Linked DNA regions of Homo sapiens: all the other regions are linked to region 3. The links come from fine-mapping of genetic effects on gene expression. A gene starts in region 3. Each other region holds a variant in brackets. All regions are shown on one strand. Distances are between the middles of the regions. Region 1 overlaps LOC124906112 (a long non-coding RNA gene). Region 2 overlaps LOC124906112 (a long non-coding RNA gene). Region 3 holds the start of TYW5 (tRNA-yW synthesizing protein 5). Region 4 overlaps LOC124906112 (a long non-coding RNA gene).

The links. PIP is the estimated chance that this variant, and not a neighbour inherited with it, causes the effect. A credible set is the group of variants that fine-mapping cannot tell apart.
Region 1: its variant is the best candidate, but not a certain one, in a credible set for the expression of TYW5 in whole blood (INTERVAL, PIP 0.54).
Region 2: its variant is the best candidate, but not a certain one, in a credible set for the expression of TYW5 in fibroblasts (GTEx, PIP 0.53).
Region 4: its variant is the best candidate, but not a certain one, in a credible set for the expression of TYW5 in monocytes after Pam3CSK4 (Quach 2016, PIP 0.53).

The regions. Positions count from the first base shown.
Region 1 is chr2:199,974,454-199,977,141 of GRCh38, forward strand. All of the region lies in intron 2 of LOC124906112 (a long non-coding RNA gene), which reads right to left. Among named protein-coding and RNA genes, the nearest start is that of MAIP1, 20 kb to the left of the region's middle. The variant A/G (reference allele first, on the strand shown) is at 1,436.
Region 2 is chr2:199,983,993-199,986,680 of GRCh38, forward strand. The region is part of intron 2 of LOC124906112 (a long non-coding RNA gene); the gene reads right to left. Among named protein-coding and RNA genes, the nearest start is that of MAIP1, 30 kb to the left of the region's middle. The variant G/A (reference allele first, on the strand shown) is at 1,687.
Region 3 is chr2:199,954,015-199,956,694 of GRCh38, forward strand. TYW5 (tRNA-yW synthesizing protein 5) reads right to left here and starts at 1,477. Exons shown (of 8, transcript NM_001039693.3): 1 at 1,379-1,477. The coding sequence starts at 1,456. MAIP1 (matrix AAA peptidase interacting protein 1) reads left to right here and starts at 1,568. Exons shown (of 5, transcript NM_001394955.1): 1 at 1,568-2,234. The coding sequence starts at 1,785. RefSeq lists enhancers at 1,121-2,320, 1,431-1,550, 1,721-1,880, 1,901-2,000.
Region 4 is chr2:200,028,211-200,030,898 of GRCh38, forward strand. All of the region lies in intron 1 of LOC124906112 (a long non-coding RNA gene), which reads right to left. Among named protein-coding and RNA genes, the nearest start is that of MAIP1, 74 kb to the left of the region's middle. The variant A/C (reference allele first, on the strand shown) is at 1,350.

The DNA.
Region 1 (2,688 bases), 20 kb after region 3:
GATACAATTATTTCGCCAGAACATGGTCTCACTCAACCATAGGGACCCAGGAAGTACAAATCTGCCATGTTCCTGGAAGGCAGAGGGTAAGAAGTATTTGGTGAGATGCAATAATGATTACCACATGCAGAAAAAGCACACGGTTTTACATCACAGAGATCAAGAGAGAGACTTTCCAGGTGTTTTAGTTACACATTATTAACTGAGCATTATTGACTACTCTGCTATGGGGGTCTGGAGATGAGAATCACTCGTTCAGTGTAACAATGATTGCAGATGTCTAAACCAGTTTAAGTGAGAAAGGCTATAGAGCCCTTGAATCCATTATCTCCATTTGATGAGATCTGCTAAGGTGTGCTAACACACTCATTAGATTAATGGGGTCACCTAGGAGGAAGCAGTGGCTTACGCCTGTAATCCCAGCTACTCTGAAGGCTGAGGCAGGAGGATTGCTTGAGTGTGGGAGTTTGAGGTTAGCAGTAGTCTGGGCAACATAGTGAAACCTTGTTTCTAAAACAACAATAACAACAAAATTGGTTATGTCAATATTATTATAAATTGTTCATTATCTCAAATTTTAAGAAACTTACATAAGACCTTGTAAGAGTACTTGATATTGGCCATTTTAATTTCACAATGTGGGCAGATTATGCAAATGATTGGCATACTGTTTAGGATTACTTCTATTAAATAACTGCACGAAACAAAAACTTTTAAATATTATGGCTTAAATAATATAGAAGTAGTTGTTTCCTCTTACACTAATAGAGATTCAGAGATATGATGCTTTGGGGCTTGTATGCCAACTCCACAGAGTCCTCAGAGATCTAGGCTCCTTCTAGTCACAACTATCTTCTTTAGGGCATGATATGTGTCCTTATATTAAAAAATGGCTTGTAGAGCTCCAGCTCTCATATCCATATTCCATGGAGCAGAACGGAGGAAAGAAAAGAACAGGCAAGGGGTATATACATCAGCTGTCTTTTAAGATGCTTTCCCAGAAGGCACAAAAAACATTTCCACTTAATTTCATCAGCCAGGAATTAGTCATATGGTCACATGTAATTGGGAAGGTGAGGCTGAGAAATATAGTTGTTTAGCTGGGTACATTTTGTTGCCTCAAATAAAACTAGAGGTCCTAAAACTGAGGAGGAGGGGGAGAATGAATATTGGCTATAGGCTTCTAGCAATTTGCCCTAATTGGGTTACTTGAGTCATGAAGCCACACAGACCCTGCCAAATAGCTGACAGACTTGCTTTCCCCAGCTTCACTGACAGACCATGGTGGCTTCTAACTGCGGTCTGGAAATAGCCCTAAATATTGCCTAGCTATTTTTTCTTTCTTTGAGATAGGGTCTCACTCTGTCACCGAGGCTGGAGTACAGTGGTGCAATCACAGCTCACCAAGGCTCAGGTGATCTCCCAGGCTCAGGTG[A/G]TCCTCCCACCTCAGCCTCCTGAGTAGCTGGGACTACAGGCACACACCACCACACCTGGCTAATTGTTTGCATTTTGTTTTGTTTTGTTTTGTAGAGATGGGATTTCACCATTTTGCCCAGGCTAATCTGTAACTCCTGGACTGAAGCAATTCACCCACCTTGGCCTCCCAAAATGCTGGGATTACAGGTGTGAGCCAACATGCCTGGCCTTGCTAAGCTAATTCTTACATAAAGTTTTTAATTTATTTTTAATTTTTGTGGGTACATAGCAGGTGAATATATGGATTACATGAGACATTTTGACACAGGCATGCAATGCATAATAATCACATCAGGGTAAATGAGGTATCAATCATCTCAAGCATTTATCCTTTGTGTTACAAATAATCCAATTATACTCCTTTAGTGTTTTCAAAATGTACAATTAAATTATTTTTTACTTTAGTCATTTTGTTGTGCTAGCAAATACTAGATCTTATTCATTCTTTCTAACTATTTTTTTTGTGCCCACCAACCATCCCCACTTTCCTATCACATCCCCACTTTCCTATCTCTGCCTTCATAGACTCTGGTAACCATCCTTCTACTCTCTATCTCCATGAGTTCAATTATTTTAATTTTTAGCTCCCACAAATAAGTGAGAACATGCAAAACTTACTTCTCTGTGCCTGGCTTATTTCACTTAACATAATGACCTCTAGTTCCATCCATCTTGTTACCAATGACAGGATCTCATTCTTTTTTATGGCTGAATAGTACTCCATTGTATATATGTACCATATTTTCTTTATCTGTTCATCTGCTGGTGGATACAGGTTGCTTCCAAATCTTGGCTATTGTGAATACTGCTGCAATAAATATGGAAGGGTAGATATCTCTTTGATATACTGATTTCCTTTCTTTTGGGTATATACCTATGGGTGGGATTGCTGGATCCTATGGTAGGATTTTTAGTTTTTTGAAAAACTTCCAAACTGTTCTCCATAGTGGTTGTACTAATATACAGTCCCACCAACAGTGTATAAGGCTTCTCTTTTCTCCACATCCTTGCTAGCATTTGTTATTGCCTGACTTTTGGATAAACGCCATTTTAACTGGGGTGAGATGGTATCTAATTGTAGTTTTGATTTGCATTTCTCTGATGATTAATGATGTTGAGCACCTTTTCATATGCCTGTTGGCCATTTGTGTGTCTTCTTTTGAGAAATGTCTATTCAGGTCTTTTGCCCATTTTTAATCAGATTATTAGTTT
Region 2 (2,688 bases), 30 kb after region 3:
TGAGGCAGGCTTCTTGTCATTGCCATAAGCCATCAATTTCCCAGCAGATTATATTAGGAACATTTTTATAAGCCCAAAATGGCATTATAAAAGTGTGGTAAAGTTATTTGTTGGTGGAGAACAGAGAGGACTTGCTTTTGCCCAGGAGGACTTTCTTCCCCCGCTGCATAGGAACATTTCGAAGAAAACAGGTGTCCATCCTTATAAAATCACTCCATTCCTGTGGCTCTTGCAGGTACTGCCATATTCCACATGCCCGTTCCCTCACGTGGTGTGTAGGTCCTGGGGATGTTAAACACTTATGGACCTCAAATGGCATCAGCATGGTGCGTGGATGGCCTGTGACTTGCTATCATGAGTCTGTCAGGGATGCAATGATGTCAGCTCACTTGGCTGAGGGGCTGGCAGTTTAACAATGTCCCTATCCTTGGCTTGTCAAGAGTTATAAGCTTACACAGTGATAGGAAAGTTTTTATTTAAAAAACAGAATTTCTAACACAAGATCAATTTTTGTCTTGGCAGTCCTGATACTGTCACTTTAGGTAAAAATCACAAGTTCAAATCCCAGCTCAGTTCTCACCAGGTGGGTGTCCTCAGGCAAGGTCTTCAGCTTCCCTGGGCTCTGGGCCTTTCCACTGTGACAATACTAACCCATTTCAAAGGCTGGTGTTAGACTGAAACTATTAAAGTCAAGCAGAAAATAAAAATGGGAAAAAGCAAAGCAATAAAAAGGGTGTGTTATCCCTCACCCCCACACTCCCGTTTAATGTTAAGGGAGTCTGAATATACTCAGATGCGGCTATGACCAGAGAGCTACTTGCCAACAGCAAGAAACAGATTTTCCTAAATGATTTTTTTTAAAGCTGTTAATTCCCTTTTTTTTATTTCCCATCTAATTCCTGGCAGGAGAATAGACAGCGGGGAATAAAAACCTCTGTTGAGTTGGCAATTTTAGTACTCATATACAAGACTGTTTTATCATCAATCCTCTGAGGTCAGGGGGTCTATAAAGACATAAAGGGAGTCTTTCTTTCTAGTTGTGTTTGAGCCAGGACACTTGGGCTCTTTCCTAGTGTCTTACAGAACCAGCTTTTTACTTCTGCTGGTCCAGCCTCCTTACTTAACAGCCAGAGAAATGGAGGCCAGAGGGTTTCATAGCCCTTCAGGCTTTGTTTTCCTCATCTGTAAAATGGGGATGATGGTTCCTACCTTAGAGGATTGTTCTATATTTTAAGGGAGTAGAGCCATACCTGGCATATGATAAGCCCAATGTAAGTGAGAGGCAGCAAAGCTTGATAATAAAGAGATAATCTCTATATCAGATGGTCGGGCCCACTTCCTGGACTGCCCCTTACTATTAGTGACCTTGGATGAGTTACTTAACAGTCCTGCTCCTTGTAGAGTTGTCACAAGGATTAAATTAGTTAACATACATAAAACACTTAGTGTCTGTCACATCGTTAAGTGCTATACTGGAATTAATTCTTACTATGGTTATTTTGAAAGACATTATGTGGTTTCTATAGAATTGTCCAGTTAATTAGTGGAGAGGGCCACAAATAGAATAAAAAAAAATTGGGGTCTTGTGTGTATTCTATACCAAACCAACGTACCTAGTTATATACATAAGCGCCAGGTTCATTTCTAACTTCTTTAGGGCTACTTCTGACTCCTATGACTATGATA[G/A]AGCTAACTTGTTAATGTCATCCACCTAGATCGGTAGAGTTTGCAGCACAGCTTAATTGGGAGGTTCATCAATAAGCCACACACATGCCCGTGGGACTTAGAAGGAAGCTCAGCCATTTGTCTCCATTAGAGGGCGCCAAGGGGAGACAGCATGGTGGAAGGAAGAGAAAGAACCAGTTGCTTCCTGTTCCTGTTAGGGTTTCCCAGCCATAGCCCTTCACCCCAGCAAAGGCAGTTGATTCCAGTGTGCAGTTTTCCCAGCCTCTGCGGACACCCGCTTTTCAAAGATCAGAATCTGTCCTCTGAGATCCTAACAAGCCCAACCTTCTCCCTTTGTTCCCCAGCCTGAAGTGGTGACTACTTTCTGCAGTTATTATTTCTGCTACATTTCAGTGGCCCCTTTTTTGCCTTGTCAATTCTTTAATCTCTAGCTAAAAATTCTTTATATTGAATTCTAATTCTCACTGATAAAATAATCGAAGTGCTGTATTTCTTCTTACTGGTATACACATGAATATGCAGTTATAAAAATAATACATAAATAGAGGCCAACAGAAAGTCCTCAATGATATCACCCCCTTTTCTCGCTGCAGACTGAACGTGATCATGTAAGTTATGTCTCCTTTGAGTATCTGTCACTTAGTTACTCCACTCCCTAGAGGAAACCACAGCTATCAGCAGGTGTCTGTCCCTCTAGAACTTTAACAAATACATTTACATGGATATATATGTATATATACACACACACATATATACACACACATACATATATATATACACACACATATATATGGTAGAGTATGATCACATAATACAAACATAATGAAATAATTTAAAATAAATGTAACTATACTTTAGCACTTTAAAATATTTTTCTCTTTTCTAAGAAAACTGATTTCTTCCATTTTCACATCTTAGATTGGATCTCAGCTCTCTATTCTTGCTTCTTTTCACCACTCAAAAGGGCATGTTTTCCCTGCAATTCTTGTTTTTTTTCTCTCT
Region 3 (2,680 bases):
TACAAGTCTCCAAACTAATAAAGGCTTGAATCCTCTCCCGTAGGTTGCTATCAAAAGAAAAACTTCATTCCTCCCGCATCCCCCCAACCCCGCCTTTTTTTTTTTTAAGCTAGGGTCTCACCCTCTCGCCCATGCTGGAGCAGTGGCAGGATCATGGATCACTGCAGCCTCGACCTCCCGGGCTCAAGCAGATCCTCCGACCTCAGCCTCCAGAGTAGCTGGGAATACAGGCGTGCGCCACCACGCCCGGCTAATTTTTGTATTTTTTGTACAGACGGGGATTCACCATATTGGCCAGGCTGGTCTTGAACTCCTGACCTCAAGTGATCCACCGACCTGGGCCTCCCAAAATGTTAGGATTACTGGCATGAACCACGGCGCCCAGCCCATCCGACTTTTGTAACACTCAGAATTGTAGTTTTGTTTGTTTGTTTGAGACCGAGTTTAGCTCTTGTTGCCCAGGCTGGAGTGCAGTGGCGCGATCTCGGCTCACTGCAACCTCCGCCTCCCGGGTTCAAGCGATTCTCCTGCCTCAGCCTCCCGAGTAGCTGGGATTACAGGTATGGGCCACCACCATGCCCGGCTAATTTTGTATTTTTAGTAGAGATGGGATTTCTACTGGCTGGTCTTGAACTCCTGACCTCCGGTGATCCGTCCGCCTCGGCCTCGCAAAGTGCTGGGATTACAGGCGTGAGCCACCGCGCCCGGCCCCAGAACTGTAATTCTATGACCACCCTTATAAATGTAAATATCAGGTAAGAAAATTGCTGGGTATTTTTCCTACCATAAACTGACTTACTGTAATCCTGTGGATTTTTCCTTTTAATACCTTGTTTTTCTTAGGTCTGGACTCCCTTGAAAAGCACTGCAAGTAAAAGCACTTTTTGTTTCCCTAATATTTCTCTATGAGTTTTCTTTTAAAGACCTAAGGTTCTAACTACAGGTATAAAAGACTCCAATGTCGGAACTAGAACCTAAGTAAGTTAGAATTCAAGACGAGTAGGAGTTTTCCGGGGGAATCCCATTGCTTTCCTTTTTGGCTCAGTGGAGTGAAAAGTTGTGCCTTCAAATCCATTAATTCGGAGCAGACTGACAGATGCGGAGTAAAGAGTTTAGGCAAAATACCTCTCGCACTCAGCTCTCCGCCATCATCTTGCTCCCCAGAAACATGGGACTTTCTCCGGAAATTTCAATAGAGGAGCCAGTCGGCGTCCCCCGTGCACCTTTCCCTTGGTCTAAGGGCCAACCAGTGATCTGCTGCCGTCCTGCGCCTCTTTCCCACACCCTGGGTCTCTAAAAACCAGTTCCCAGCTGTCCGAAAGGTAAAGACGTGTCTCTCGCTGGTTTCTCGAGGTTCTGCCCCGCGCGAGGGCCTCACCTGTGGGTAGAGGTGCTGCATGAACTGCTCCCGAGAAACGCCCTCCAGCCGGGGTACCGGGAGGTGCTGCCCGGCCATGGTTGCTCACGCCTGCCCTCTTCCAGGTCTTCGGAACTTCGGCTCTAAAGCGTTCCTCAGCGCCATCCGCCCGGAAACACGAGCGACAGAGAAAAGGTCCGCGAGGCCGGCAGACTCCAGAGTGGCTGGGTCCGAGCGCGGGGCGGGTTGCCGAAGGGCCTCGGCCTGGGCTGCGTGCTGGAGAGCGGGGACGGGGCCGACTCACCAGAGGCTGCAGCAACAGGTCCACTTTGCTCTCCAGTCTCTTTCTCCGACACCGCTGAGGCGGTTTCCCACCGACTTCCTTTCCATACAGCACCGGCAGGCACCGGTGTGAAGGGTCATAAAAATGGCGCTGGCCGCTCGTTTGCTACCCCAGTTCCTGCACTCTCGGTCGCTGCCCTGCGGGGCCGTCCGACTCCGGACTCCTGCTGTGGCCGAGGTGAGGCTGCCGTCGGCCACACTTTGCTACTTCTGCCGCTGTCGCCTCGGCTTGGGAGCGGCGTTATTTCCACGAAGCGCTAGGGCCTTGGCAGCCTCGGCGCTACCTGCCCAGGGCTCCCGGTGGCCAGTGCTCAGCAGCCCGGGACTCCCCGCAGCCTTCGCTTCTTTCCCTGCCTGCCCTCAGCGCAGCTACAGCACGGAGGAGAAGCCCCAGCAGCACCAGAAAACCAAGATGATCGTCCTGGGATTCTCCAACCCCATCAACTGGGTTAGGACTCGAATTAAGGCCTTCCTTATCTGGGCCTATTTCGACAAAGAGTTCAGCATCACAGAGTTCTCCGAGGGAGCGAAGCAGGTTTGTTTATTTCCCTGATTGACCTATCCGTCTCTAATGAGTTCAACTATTGCTCGCAGAAGTGCTTAGCAGTGAGTTTTCTTCACTGGGATACAAGTGATCAAACGTGATTAGTGGCCCAGACATAGAGCCTTCCAGCCATTGCTTGACTTAAAGTAAGCTTCTGGGCCGGGAATGGTGGTACACGCCTGTAGTCTCAGCTACTTGGGAGGCTGAAGGGGAGGATCGCTTGAACCCAGGAGTTGGACGTTGTAGTGAGCTGTGATCGTGCCATTGCACTCCAGCCTGGGATACAGAGCCAGGCCCTGTCTCAGAAAGAAAAAGCTATATGGCTCATCTTGTCTGAACATAATTTTCAAATTTACAAAGTGGGCAAGACAATGCCTGGCACATAGTAGGCACTCCATGAATGTTTGCTGAATACATTAATAAATGGGTAAGATTGA
Region 4 (2,688 bases), 74 kb after region 3:
TTTTCAAAAATGAATTCACACTGCCATATTAGCCCAACAGACCTAGCTTTAAAGCTATATGTATATAGTATATAACTGCAGTATGATAGTTCTGCAAATGATAGAACTTTAAAAAATAATTCCAAGGCTGTATTCAGATTCAGTGCGGGGCATCTCTTCTATACAGACAGTCCTCTTATGGGGTTAACATTTTCAAATGTTTGAACTTGTTCACAGTATTTAGTAGCTTTTATACAACAGTTTAAATTATTCATGTAATTCATGTTCTCTATGGAAAAGTTAGAAATTCAAACAAGCAAAAGAAAAAGATAAAAATCAAGGATTCCAACTAATTTCTAATGGGAATTTGGAAAGTAAATTTGTCTCCTGAATCTCAAAACCATCTGCTGCTAATTAGGACTTTTAGCAGAAAGTTTATGAAGCCAGAATATGGATTTTATTAAGCAGGACTCAATTTATAATCAGCAATAAATTTGCTTCTTCTCCCTTTCTTTCTACTCTCCACCTTTCAAAAGAAGTGACTAATAGGCAGAATTTCACACATCCAAAATGAAAATTTGTGTAGACTCCAAGATAACAATGTCACAATAGAACCAAACTTCATAGCTTGGGGAAATTTGAAATAAATCAGATAAGTCAACTGAGATCTTTAAGAAGGTAATGCACCAATGTTCTAGGCCTCAGTTTTCTTGATGGTAAAGGGCAGCTGTTGGACTTAAGGAACATAATCATATTATGATACTTCTATGAGGGAGTTGCAAGTCAATATCTATAAAAAGAGGTTGAAGACTATTAAAGACTCAAATGAGGTAATCATTCCTTAATAAGTTTCTCTAAGACTGTAACATTAGGCCACTAGAAAAGAATCTGAAAAGCAACTGTCAGGTTTCCAAAATAGTGGCTAGTATTTGTGTTAGGAGCAGTCAAGCATGTGTCCAAACCCCACTGTTTTTACATGAGTGTGCAGAGATGAAAATGGCCCACAATCTTGGCTGAAGAACAAGTCATCATCCTATGATAATACAGTTGGGGTTAATGCTAATGCTGGATATATTTGGAAACTTACACATGTGCTTTAGACAAGGCTCATCTGTGGTCAAATGCTGGTCTCCAAGAAAAGCAGGTTGATGACTGGGCTCCTCCTACTCTGAATGCCTACCTGGGATGCTTCCACGTGGTTCTGTAGGCATGTCCATCTAAGTTATTATTACTGGCAAATGCTAACTTTTAAATATTCACTTATGTTTTAGGTCCAAGTCTCTTTAATTTCTAATCCTGGTGGAGTGGACAGACATGGAAAATTTACAGACTCTGTTTACCCCCATTAACTTAAGGTCCAGATAGGCAGG[A/C]CTGAAGGCTAGCTCCAGGCCCTTTTTCTCCTGGGCCCCACCCCATTGTCTATTAGACCTTCAAGAGAAGAACTTCTCAAGCAGGAGCCCCTTACTTAACCCCAAATACCCTCCAGCTGCCTAGGAAGAAAGAAAGATGGAGAGAACCAAAAAGAAGGAGTTTAATTCCATATTGCTGCTCCTGAAATTTCTATTCCTTTAGAACAGAAGACCCCTTAGGTCTTCTTGAAAACTCGATTTTGTCCTTGAGCCAAGGACAGTGGGTATGGAAGAAAGGGAGGTGATGAACATGCTCTAGAGTACATGGAGAGGGGGACCCTACTCCTCATATCCCCTTGGTCATACCTCAACATTCTGAAGTAGGATATTGGTGAGAAGCAGATGTTCATTGGGTCACTACTGGATGGGTCTAATGTGCCAATGGCTTGTGCTAAATGCCTCGCTTGTTTTTCTTCTCTTGGACTTGCTTGACTTCAGATGGAACGGCTCTATACAGCCTGATATTTTATAGTTGCCTTAGATTTTCAGCTGCTGAGAAGGTCTATGTTTTTCCAGCTTTTTAATCTCAGTGGTGGGTAAGTTCAACCTGGAGTAAAAGGTAGAGTATCTCTGCACGCTACCCAAATCAACTTTGCCAGTACTGCACTTTGTTCCTAACTTGACTCCTTGAGTCTATTTATAAATTGGTTGGAACTGATAAATAAGGAGGAATGAGTAATTAGTCTCTCCCAACTTCCAACAGTAAAGCAAAACAGTAGTGTCATTGAACTCCAAATGTGATCAACAACTCTTAAAAGAGAAAGAGAAGGGGTCAGTCCAATTACTGAGTGAAAAGAAATCTGACTGAAAAGAAAGGAGTAGTACAGTAGCAAAATTTCAAGGGCTACATGTAGATGGAATGCTGGGTCTGGGTCTATCTGGGAAGATGTTGAATGGACCACCCAGAGTCCAGTTAAATGAGTCTAAGGACATTCCTGAGAGAAAACAAATTCATTTTAGAAGAAAGAGTCAGGCTGTATACTCTAGACCAACTTACTAATTATTATTATTATTATTGAGACAGAGTCTCACTCTGTCACCCAGGTTGGAGTGCAGTGGCATGATCTTGGCTCACTGCAACCTCTGCCTCCCAAGTTTAAGCCATTCTTGCGCCTCAGCCTCCTGAGTAGCTGAGGTTACAGGGATGTGCCACCACGCCTGGCTAATTTTTGTATTTTTAGTAGAGACGGGGTTTCACCATGTTTGCCAGGCTGGTCTCAAACTCCTGGCCTCAAGTTATCCACCTCCCTCGGCCTCCCAAAGTGCTGGGATTACAGGCATAAGCCACCATGCCAAGTTA